2 separate regions of the Homo sapiens genome follow, and region 1 is linked to region 2. Evidence: fine-mapped expression QTL. Tissue or cell type: whole blood. Region 2 holds a variant in brackets; the other region holds the start of a gene. All regions are shown on one strand. Distances are between the middles of the regions.

What was found. PIP is the estimated chance that this variant, and not a neighbour inherited with it, causes the effect.
Region 1: it holds the start of KCTD20, and the variant in region 2 is fine-mapped to the expression of KCTD20 in whole blood (TOPMed, PIP above 0.99).

Annotation. Positions count from the first base shown.
Region 1 is chr6:36,440,033-36,445,547 of GRCh38, reverse strand. KCTD20 (potassium channel tetramerization domain containing 20) reads right to left here and starts at 2,548. Exons shown (of 8, transcript NM_173562.5): 1 at 2,437-2,548. It overlaps PXT1 (peroxisomal testis enriched protein 1), which reads left to right and starts at 2,694. Exons shown (of 5, transcript NM_152990.4): 1 at 2,694-3,013. RefSeq lists enhancers at 1,431-1,490, 2,096-2,195, 3,680-4,227 and silencers at 2,356-2,645, 3,804-3,873.
Region 2 is chr6:36,557,072-36,563,118 of GRCh38, reverse strand. No RefSeq gene overlaps it. Among named protein-coding and RNA genes, the nearest start is that of STK38, 13 kb to the right of the region's middle. The variant G/C (reference allele first, on the strand shown) is at 3,634.

The sequences.
Region 1 (5,515 bases), 120 kb after region 2:
GGGGCAGGAAGATCAGATTGAAGGCCAGAGGAAGACACAACAATCAGGAAGCTCAGGGCTACAGAAGGAAAGACATGACATTTTATGAATCAACAGAAAAAGATTCAATAAGATAAATCAGACACCAAAGAGAGGAAAAAAGTCACAGAAACACATGGCCTAATTCTAACCTCATCTCTACACATCTATTTGAAGGGGGAATAATAAATATAAAAATGCGTGTATTATTGTCCTTACCAAAGTTACTAGATGTCTCTGTTACAGATTTTTTTTTTTTTTTTTTTTTGAGACGGAGTCTCACTCTGTTGCCCAGGCTGGAGTACAATGGCGCGATCTCGGCTCACTGCAACCTCTGCCTCCCGGATTCAAGTGATTCTCCGGCCTCAGCCTCCCGTGTAGCTGGGATTACAGGTGCCCACCACCATGCCTGGCTTATTTTTGTATTTTTAGTAGAGACAGGGTTTCACCAGGTTGGCCAGGCTGGTCTGAAACTCCTGACCTCAGGTGATCCATCTGCCTCGGCTTCCCAAATTGCTGGGATTACAGGCATGAGCCACCACGCCCGGCTTCTGTTACAGAATTTAAGACTGACCTAACTACTACAGTTAGGCCTAATACAATGTATTTCTTAACTTCTTAAGGAAAACGAGATTATTGGAATAGTACGTGTATTTCTGGCATAACAGGAAGGAACAAATTGTGGATGAATAAAGAGAACCTTTTGGCAGCAGTGGAGTTTATCCAGCCCTCATTTCTGCCTCAAAGGAGGAATGCAACTCTGTGCCAGAAATATGTGTCTATATTGCAATGCTGTTGATAAAACAGCCTACTACAGTGCTTTGAGGAAAATAGGCATTACGCAGGTATTTGATGACTAAATTAACGTCCAGCTGAACTGAAAGCCCTCATAATGCTACTAGTACTGCTACATACCAGATAATATGACAGTCAAGGCCATGGGAATTATATGGCATTGGCTGCCCTGGTTCCATGGGGAGACTTGAGTGAGCTGGGCGGAGGAGATTTGGCCTAATGGCATTAAGCTCTGATGATACTAGAAGCAGCCCTCAGAAGGAAAAGATTAATGGGCTATCTCTAAACCATCAGAGCAATATCGGAATATGCATGAAAATCATTTCCTACCCCGTGTCAGGGTCAAAAAAAGCACTATCTTTTCTCATATTGGCTTCTGGAGAGTCAGGGCTTCTTGTCCTACGACTGGTTTAGGGCAGGGGAGGAAAACATCGACAAAGGGTTAAGGCTGTTGGGCAGTTTTTAAAATTCCCAGCCCAGCCTAAAGGTGGTGTCTGTCAACGTGTGGTCGGTCCCTGGATCATCAGTAACAGACCAAGAGTGCAGGTGCTTGCTTAAATCCCAGACTCAGGGACCCATCACAAATCTCTAGAATCAAATTTATGGAAGAGGTGCTAGGGTACTGCAACCTTATTACTAAGGAACAATCTTCTGTTTCAGAACTATGGCCTAGGAATTGGGGTTTCAGGTGGGGGCCTTGAGCGGAAGTCCTCTGACTCTGGATTCATCACATCCGACAGACACTACTACAACACTTTGTTTTGAAGACCATTAAAAAACTACCTCAACTTCTCGCACAGCGAACAGGAACAAAACTAAGGACTCTGGGACATATTTTCATAAGCTGGTTAAACAGTTCCTTCACAGCCTTGTTTATCATGTTAGTTTGTTCACTAGATTCTTATTTAAAAATAAATCTCTTCAACTGAGGAATTTTCAGAAAGAATCACAAACTCCAAAATAGAAGAGTTTTCTCATAGTGCAGAACTGGGCTTCTAAACCTGAAGACACTGCTATAAAAAGCAAAGTTTTATTTAAAAGAAAATTGCTGGTTAAGGCTTTCCCCAGCTCTTTTGCACTCAGAGCCACGGATGAAAGCTGGCAATTTGCGGGTGGCAGGGAAGGAAGACGCGGAAACAGGGCTGAAAAGACCGAGCAAAATGCGCTCGGCTCCAGAGTTCAGGAGGAAGTCCCCACCAACTACCTAATTTTTAATGGAGCCAATTAATTGCCAGAAAAACCGCGTCTGCAAATGTTTTGCCAGTCAACACTCCAGGTTCTCGCCATTCCTCTCCGGCGGGATGAACCACCCGAGGCCTGCAAAAAGCAGTCAAGCAGTCAAGTTACACTTCAGCTGTGCCCACCACCTGGGCGCAGCGTCGCCTCCCTCCCCAGGATCACCAGACTCTGCCCTCCGCGCGGAAACAGGAGCCCATCAAGCCGCTGCCCACAGGTTCCTCGCGCCCAGCTCAGCCCCGCGGCCTTTCGACTCGGGGGTCCGAACCGCCGCCGCGTCCGGAGGAGACGCCCCCTCGGCCACAAAGGGAAGACTCGGGCCACGCCCGCCGCCACACTCTCCCTGCCCGGTCTTCGCGCCCGAAACCGTACCGCGCCGCCACTTACTCGTCGCTCCCCGCCGCGCTGTCCCGCTCGGGGCTGGAATCCGCCCGGGAGGCGCGCGCAGGCCGCGCAGCCAGAAGCCGCAGCCGGGACCGGCTGTGCCGCAGCGGCGCGCGCCCCCCGCCCCGGACCGCGCGGCCACGCGGCTGAGTCACCCAGCGCTTCACGTTAAGAGTCCCCTCCGCGCGTGGCACGCCGGGAAGGCCGTGTCTGGGGACCCCGTCCGGGGCCGCACCGTAAATGGGTGTCGCCTTTCCTCCAGTCCACTCTGCACCCAACCTCAGCGGGCGCACTTTTCTGAGTTGCGCATACCCTCTCAATTATTAAAGGTTGCAGACGGAAAAGTTAGTAGTTTTCGGAATTGTAGAATACGCTCGTGCAGCGCCAGGACGGCTAATGCTTACCCGAAAATGTGGAACCCTGATCTCCCCATGCGTGGAGCGAGGTTGGAGGTAGCGTAGTAAGAATACTGGAGTTGCTTAAACGCATTTGCTCGAAAGTCACTACCCTGGATATACATTCTGGCCAAAAGAAAGGGGGAAAAACTCCACATTTTTCTCAAATACTGAGTTTCATGAAGGTACCTGCTATTACAAAGGTGTATTACAAATTTTAAATCAACCGGAAGCAAGTTACTGGGAAAACTGTGTTATGAGTAAAAGATTTCAGCATTCAAAAAACATCTATATATGGTCCATGTCCTATGAACCAAATGCTGGAAAACCCAAAAGGAAGTTCTTATTGTCACGGTTTCTAGTGGCTTTTGTACTTTTAAAAATTACACTAGGCCGGGCTTGGTGGCTCACGCCTGTAATCCTTGCACTTTGGGAGGCCGAGGCGGGCAGATCACCTGAGGTTGGGCATTCCAGACCAGCCTGGCCAACATGATGAAACCCTGTCTCTGCTAAAAATACAAAAATTAGCCGGGCGTGGTGGTGGGCGCCTATAACCCTAGCTGTTTGGGAGGCTGAGGCAGGAGAATCACTTGAACCCAGGAGGCAACTGGGAGGTTGCAGTGAAGTTCCCTCTCAAATATATATATATATGTCTATATATACTAATTAAATATACTGATTATGCAAACTATTTGTAAATTGTTGAAAGCTCTATAAACTAATAATAGCACAAATTTTAAAATTCGAAGTCGATTCTCCTTTTCCTTACAAGAGACTCTCTGAAAACTAATTTGGAATTGGATTAGAATTGGTGTTGAAGTGGAAGGAATGTAAGAAAATAGTTTGACTCAGTAGGTTTCACACGGTTAACGGATACTTGTATAGCAAATTTGTTTTATCAGGGTCAAAAAATTTAATTTTCAAAACTGAAGACATAAATTTTTTCATTATAATTTGGTCTTAGAGGCCTAGAGGGTCATTTTCCATTTCTATTCTCCCTCGTTTATGACTATAAAGTATGCAGGACTGTATTGTGTTTATCTCAACATGGACTAGGCTGTGAGGCTGCACTCGTCATCTGTAAGTCAGTCTCACGTCCCCATGGTGACTCAGCTTCCCTGCTGCTTGCGTCAGTGGCTCTGCCCTCCCAGCACTTCCGGGCTGGCAGAAGAGCTAGATTGGAGAATCCTGTAAGGGCTCTCCTTTGCCTCTGCCAGAAGTGAGTGGCCTTTTCACTTCTGCTGACGTTTCACTGTCCTGAACTAGTCACCAGGCTCAACCTGACTGACTCTAAGAAGGCTGTGAGATATAAATTCCTGTATGCCTGGAGAAAAGGAATATGAAAAAAGATTTAGTAAACACATGGCTATAAACCAATTTGAGTGAGTTATAGGCTCCAAACTTTACAACAGTAGCAGCATAGAGGATTGTTCAAACTAATGCCTTTATTTCCATTTTTATAAAGTACAGTGTTACAGCCTTTGAGTCAAAGAAAAATAAAAAACCTTCTGATATTCCTGCAAAACAGTTCTTGAAACAAATTCTTCCTTTCTGGAAAGATTCCTTCCCGTAGATTTGTATATTGTCTTTCTTTTTTTTTTTTTTTTTCTTTTTGTGGAGAATGGAGTTCTTATTCTGTTGCCCAGGCAGGTCTTGAACTCCTAGGCTCAAGCTATCCTCCTGCTTCTGCCTCCCTAAGTTTGGGGATTACAGGCATGAGCCACTGCACTGGCTGCAGATTTGTGGTATACAAAAATCTGGCCTGAAGTTTGGAGAATCAGGCTAACTACCGAGTCTTATTATTATTTTTTAAACACTTTCATTTTGGAAATTAAAGCATACAGAAAGATATAATAAACACCCGTTATCCATCATCCAAAATAAATAAGTGATAACATGACTTTTAATAGTTAATGGTTCAACTTTTGGCTAAAATTTCATATAATGAACAGCATATCAGACTGGGTACCTTTTTTGGGCAGACATCAAGGAGACGGGATATGAGAAATGTATATTCACAGAAAGCATAGGTGTTTGCTGGTTTTTATCATTTTATTTCTAATTTAATGTAGGTATCTCAAGACCCCGAGTCTCTGATATTTATTTGTATCTGAAACCAAAACCTTCTTCTTTTTTTTTTTTTGAGACAGTGTCTCCCTTTGTTGCTCAGGCTGGGTGATCACCACTCACTGCAGCCTCGATCTTCTGGACTTAATCCCCCTCCCAGGTTCACGCCATTCTCCTGCCTCAGCCTCTCGAGTAGCTGGGACTACAGGCGCCCGCCACTGTGCCCGGCTAATTTTTTGTATTTTTAGTAGAGATGGGGTTTCACCATGTTAGCCAAGATGGTCTCGATCTCCTGACCTCGTGATCCACCCGCCTCGGCATCCCAAAGTGCTGGGATTACAGGCGCAAGCCACCACGCCCGGTCAAGGTTGACTCTTAAGAATAAAAATATTTTTTAAATAATAGCTATTGTAAATTGTCATACAAAAAGCTAATCCTCATTTCTACCGACTAAGCTTATGTAGTAAATATAAAAACAAACCAAAAATCCCTAGATTTTGAACTGTCTCTCTCGAATAATTAAATTTGCTAAATGTTCGTTTTCTTTTGTTTTCTGAGACAGAGTCTTGCCCTGTCACTCAGGCTGGAGTGCAGTGGTGGGATCATGGCTCACTGCAACC
Region 2 (6,047 bases):
CTCAGCCTCCTGAGTAGTTGGGATTACAGGCACCTGCCACCACACCTAGCTAATTTTTGTATTTGTAGTAGAGATGGGTTTTCACCATGTTGGCCAGGCTGTTGTCTAACTCCTGGCCTCATGATCTGCCCGCTTCAGCCTCCCAAAGTGCTGGGATTACAGGCATAAGCCACCATGCCTGGCCAAGACTTCCTGTTTCTAATTTCTGGCAAAATGATCCTTTCTCCTCCTGCTATACCTATTTGTCTACCTCTTAAGAACATGGGGCAGTTCTGGATTTGTCTGTTGTCTCAAAGCCCATTTTCCCTAGATTCTCAATATCCACAGTACATGCACTGTGTCATGATGCTATTTTAGAATATTAACTATGGGTTTCATCCCCAGGATTTTCTTTTCTCCACGGCTTTCCCCCAGTGAACTAAATTGTCTCAGCTTAGGACAACATGAACCCAAAGAGGAAGGAGACTTTTGTTGGTTTTTGAGCCATGATCTTGTGGGAAAGAGAAAGGACTCATGCACAAAGACAACATTTGAGGCTTGCAGGAATCTACCTCCAGATGAGATCAGGTCCTCGGACTGAGGGGAACGTGACTGGAGAATTCAGAAGCTTGTGGCTCCCAGGCCCTGTGCTGTGCCCCCGCAATAACTGCACCAGGGAATTAGGAATGGGGATGAGAGGAATTCCCTGAAAACTGTTTTGCGTGTTCAGTGGTTGTTAGGTTAAATCTTGTACAAGGAGGGTGTGTGGCCACTATCAGGCCACCTGGGGGATTGCTGCTTTAATAATTTACAATTATGACTTTGGACAATGTCTGGAAAAACACAGGGAAATTTGCATGCAAATAGTCCATTAACAAAGAAACAGGGAAAAAATGAAAATTTGTGAGAATGAGGGGGAACATTCAGATCACTTTAATCTAGTGTGTGTGAAGATTGTTCTCGTTCAGTACATTTCAGCTCAGCCAGTATAACAGATGATATGCAGGAGCAGAAAGCCTCCCTCCCCTATGTCTTGCCATCAGCGAAGTCCTTGGAAATTAAATACAACCCAGGGGAAAATCTGGGGGTATAGAATGACCCTAGCACATCTAATTGCAATCTGTGATAATTGCTGCTCTGGCAAAGCCCAGGAAACCACGCAAACCAGTCCAGGGGGACAGGGAAGGGCTCCCTGAGCAGAGACCTGAAGGGTGAGTTAGAGATAACTAGATGTTTGTGAAGGTAGAAAGAAAATCCAGTCCCTGGGCTGGCAATTACCTGGTGAGCCACTCAGAACCATTTTAAAAACATTGTCATGAGGAAGATGATGAGTAAACAGAGAACTTCAGGAAGGGACTGGTCCATGGTGGCAAATGCTGCAGAGAGGCCAAGCAAAATAAAGACCAAGAAGAGTCCATTGAAATACCATGGAGGACATTGGTGCTGACGTTGTCAAGTACAGCTGGAGCAAGTTGTGGGAAGAAAGCAAAAAAAATTTTTTTTTCCCAAGATGGAGTCTTGCTTTGTCACCCAGGCTGGAGTGCAGGGGTACAATCTCCGCTCACTACAACCTCCGCCTCCTGGGTTCGAGCAATTCACCTGGCTCAGCCTCCCGAGTAGCTGGGATTACAGGTGTGCACCACCATGCCCAGCTAATTTTTGTACTTTTAGTAGAGACAAGATTTCACCATGTTGGCCAGGCTGGTCTCGAACTCCTGACCTCGTGATCTGCCTCCCTTGGCCTCCCAAAGTGCTGGGATTACAGGTGTGAGCAACTGTGCCTGGCCAGAAGTCAAAATTGCAGGAGGTCGAGACACATGGAAGGTGTAGAAATAAGAGATGGTAAATGGAGAAAACTCTTCCCAGAAACTTGGCTGTGAAAGAAGTGGTGAATGGCAGTAGTGAAAGCTGGACTTGAGGTCGAAGGAAGAGGCTTTTCCGATAGGGAGTCTTTGCACACGTACAAACATCAGGAGGAAGCAGCCTGTCCAGAGGGAAGGTAAAAGACAGGATGGAGACTCCTAAAGAGCGAGGAAGTGACACAAGCCATAGACCAGGTAGGAGTGTGGCCTAAAAGGGAGGAGAAAAGAATGAGAGTGGATGCAGATGCCTGTAGACTTGGTGGCAGAAGAGGGAGCTGTCTACAGCCTCTACTTTCTCTGTGACATGGTAGGATCTGCTAACTGGGGAGGGGCATCAGGAGTGTGGATGGGTTGGAAGGGTTGGCAAAACCAAAGAACTGAAGAAGGCAGAAAGGATTTGAACTAGTCATTACAGTGGTTACAAATTCCAGGTGTATAAGAAAAATGTCATCTTCCTATACTTTTCCAGTGTTTCTATTTGAAGCTCTCATTCCTTTCGATAGTCAGTTTCATCTCAGTCAATTCATGAAGAGAGGACAGGTAGGCAGCTGGGTACATGGGTCTGGTAGCTCAGAAGAGGAGTATGGGCTGAAAATGTCAATTTGGGATTCATCAGAATAGTTTGTCTTCTTGAGTCTTGGGAAATATTGACTCAGCTCAGGGAGATGGAAGAGGCTGAAGAGCCAAACTTGGGAAAACCCCAACATTTAAAGGCCCTTGGAAGAAGAAGAATCTGTGAAGAGTCAGAAGGTAGGAGGAAAAGCAGGAGAGTGCCATGTCCCAGAACTAAGGGAAGTGAGTATTTTAAGTAAGTGGAAATAAAACGTCAACTAGGATTAGAATTATAAAATATCCACTGGGCCAGGTGTGGTGGCCCATGCCTGTAATCCCAGCACTTTGGGAGGCAGAAGTGGGAGGATTGCTTAAGGTCAAAATTTGAGACCAGCTTGGGCAACATAGTGAGACCCTGTCTTTACAAAAAATTAAAAAAAAAATTAACCAGGCACGGTGGTAGTGCCTGTAGTCCCAGCTACTCAGGAGGCTAAGGCAGGAAGATTACTTGATCCTCAGGAGGTCGAGGCTGCAGTGAGTGATGATAGTGCCACTGCTCTCCAGCATGGGTGACAGAGTGATACCTTGTCTCTAAAAAAGTAATAATAATAGGTCAGGAGCGATGGCTCATGCCTGTAATCCCAGCACTTTGGGAGGCCAAGGTGGGTAGATCACCTGAGGTCAGGAGTTCGAGACAAGCTTGGCCAACATGGTAAAATCCCATCTCTACTAAAAATACAAAAATTAGCCAGGTGTGGTGGCACACGGCTGTAATCCCAGCTACTCGGGAGGCTGAAGCAGAAGAATCGCTTGAACGTGGGAGACAGTGGTTGCAGTGAGCCAGCATCGTGCCACTGCACTCCAGCCTGGGCAACAGAGTGAGACTCTGTCTCAAATAAATAGACAAATAATAGTAATAGTAATTAATTAGTAAAATATCTGTTGGATATCCTGTATTCTTCTTCCTTTGGGTTGAGGCACAAAGAACAGCGAGAAGATATAGTCATGACAATAGTCATAATATCTACTATTTATTGAGTACGTAACTCCTGATTATGTCATTCAACTAGCCAATCAATCAACCACATATTAACTGAGAACACAGCATGTGCCAAACACTAACGACAGTGTTTCCTCTCATGGTGCTCATTAGAGCTTCTCAACTTTTTTCACGGTCACACATGAAAAATCATACCCTTTGTACATCCCCAGAGGTAAATGAATGATGAGGCTACTCAAG[G/C]CTGCCTGAGCCCCTTGGCTGCCCTGAGGGCTGGGAGATCAATATCTCATCATCCCCGGCCTCTGATCAAAATTCTTTCTTTCAATATCTATTCTGATATTGAATGTGACTGTGGAGAAGTTTTGAGGGCAGAGGTGAGGACCAGCATAGGGTAAAAGCTGCTAGTAGTCTTCAGTGAGTTAAGTAAGAACCTTGGAGAATGGGGCTGGTTTCAAAAGCTTGGAGCCGAAAAGAAAAACAGAAAAGCAGCATTAGATTGTTCCACTTTCAGTAATGAGGAGAGAAAGAGAGACGGAAGCTCATTCTAAAAATCAGGAAATGGAAAAAGTTACTCTAAAAATTAGGAAGATTAAACTGAGGATCTTTAACTAATCTGAGATTCAATCCTAAGGTTTCAGAGGTGAAAACACTTGTGAGTTTCTGTTGGCACATCTGTTTGTAGACACTGATGCCTGCTCATTGTGCACTGTGCACAGATGGAAGCACCCTGAGAGTATCTTGTTTCCTGCAATAGAGTGCAACTGAAAATAAGGCTGCAGGAATTAAATCAGATTGTCAATGGAATAGTTGAGTTCACTATGAAAAACAGCCCCATTTAGATAAAATTCATTTTGATCTATCTGTCAATGGAAAATTATGAAGCCCTTAAAAAAAAAAAGAAGGGGACTGGGCTCAGTGGCTCACACCTGTAATCCCAGCACTTTGGGAGGCCGAGGCAGGCGGATCACGAGGTCAGGAGTTCAAGACCAGCTTGGCCAACATGGTGAAACCCTGTCTCTGCTAAAACTACAAAAATTAGCTGAGCATTGGCCAGGCGCGGTGGCTCACGCCTGTAATCCCAGCACTTTGGGAGGCCAAGGCGGGCAGATTACGAGGTCAGGAGATCGAGACCATCCTAGATAACACGGTGAAACCCTGTCTCTACTAAAAATCCAAAAAATTAGCCGGGCGTGGTGGCAGGTGCCTGTAGTCCCAGCTACTCGGGAGGCTGAGACAGGAGAACTGCTTGAACTGGGACCCAGGAGGCGGAGGTTGCAGTGAGCCAAGATCACGCCACTGCACTAGGCTACAGAGCAAGACTCCGCCTCAAAAAAAAAAAAAAAAAAGGACTGAGGCATTTCTATTTCTCCTGATGATCTGGAAGGCTTTCCAAAGTATATTTTTCAGCAAAGGATAATAAGGTGCAAAACTGTATGTTTAGAGTGTTATTTAAAAAAATATATATGTACAGTTATGTTTGCATATGCAAAGAATATGGAAGGATGCAGAAGAAACTGGTAAGACGTGACCCATGGGGAAGGGAGCTCAGTGGCTGGGGATCAAGGTGGAAGGTTTTCATTGTATACTCTTTTGAATTTTGTACCAGGTATTATTTATTTAGTGAAAAAATATATGCAAATACAGGAAAAAAAACTTTTGATGAATCATTTTTGCAAGGTTCATTTTTAACGCAAACAGACACTCCCTAATTTGCTTTGGAAATGTTGACATTTGTGTACTGGATTTTCTTAAAGCATGAAATACCAATGTCTGCAAACCACACCCCGGGTGCTTAAATTTGAGGTCACTGACAAAACCAGCCATACAAGTGTGACTTTCCAAAAAGCTAAACATTGTTGAGAGAAGCAGAGTGAGTGTCAGGGGCTTGATGTATCCCCAGCATCTGAGAATCTCAGAGAGAAGGGACTGTGGAGAGTTGGTGCAACCTCCTTTTTTTTTTTTTTCGAAATGGAGTCTCCCTCTGTCACCCAGCCTGGAGTGCAGTGGCGCGATCTCGGCTCACTGCAAGCTCCGCCTCCTGGGTTCAAGTGATACTCCTGCCTCAGCCTCCTGAGTAGCTGGGATTACAGGCACATGCCACCATGCCCGGCTAATTTTTTGTATTTTTAGTAGAGACGGGGTTTCACCGTGTTACCCAGGATGGTCTTGATCTCCTGACCTCGTGATCCGCCCGCCTTGGCCTCCTAAAGTGCTGGGATTATAGGCGTGGGCCACAGCTCAAGGCCTGCAATCTCCTTTCTTCAGAAATCAGGAAATGAGGCTCCAAAGGGGAAGAGACTTGCCTAATAAAAAGATTGTGCCATTTTGTGTAAAAAAAATGAGAAACATAAGTCTCTGTATCTATATTTGCTTCCAATTGCATGAAGAACTCCAGAAGGATACACAAAAACAAATGGGAAACTGTACAGAGAGGGAAGGGGAACAATGAAAGGATGCGAGACAGAGGTAGAAATGAGATTTTCACTTTTAATCTTTTATAATCCTTGATCTATTCTTTAAAAGAATATGAAAACATTAAAAAGAGAGATGGACCATGACATCTCTATGACCCACAGTGCAGTTTTCAAGGATGACATCATAAGACTGTGTTCAGAGACAAATTAAGAATCCTGTGTTGGGAGCGGTGGCTCACG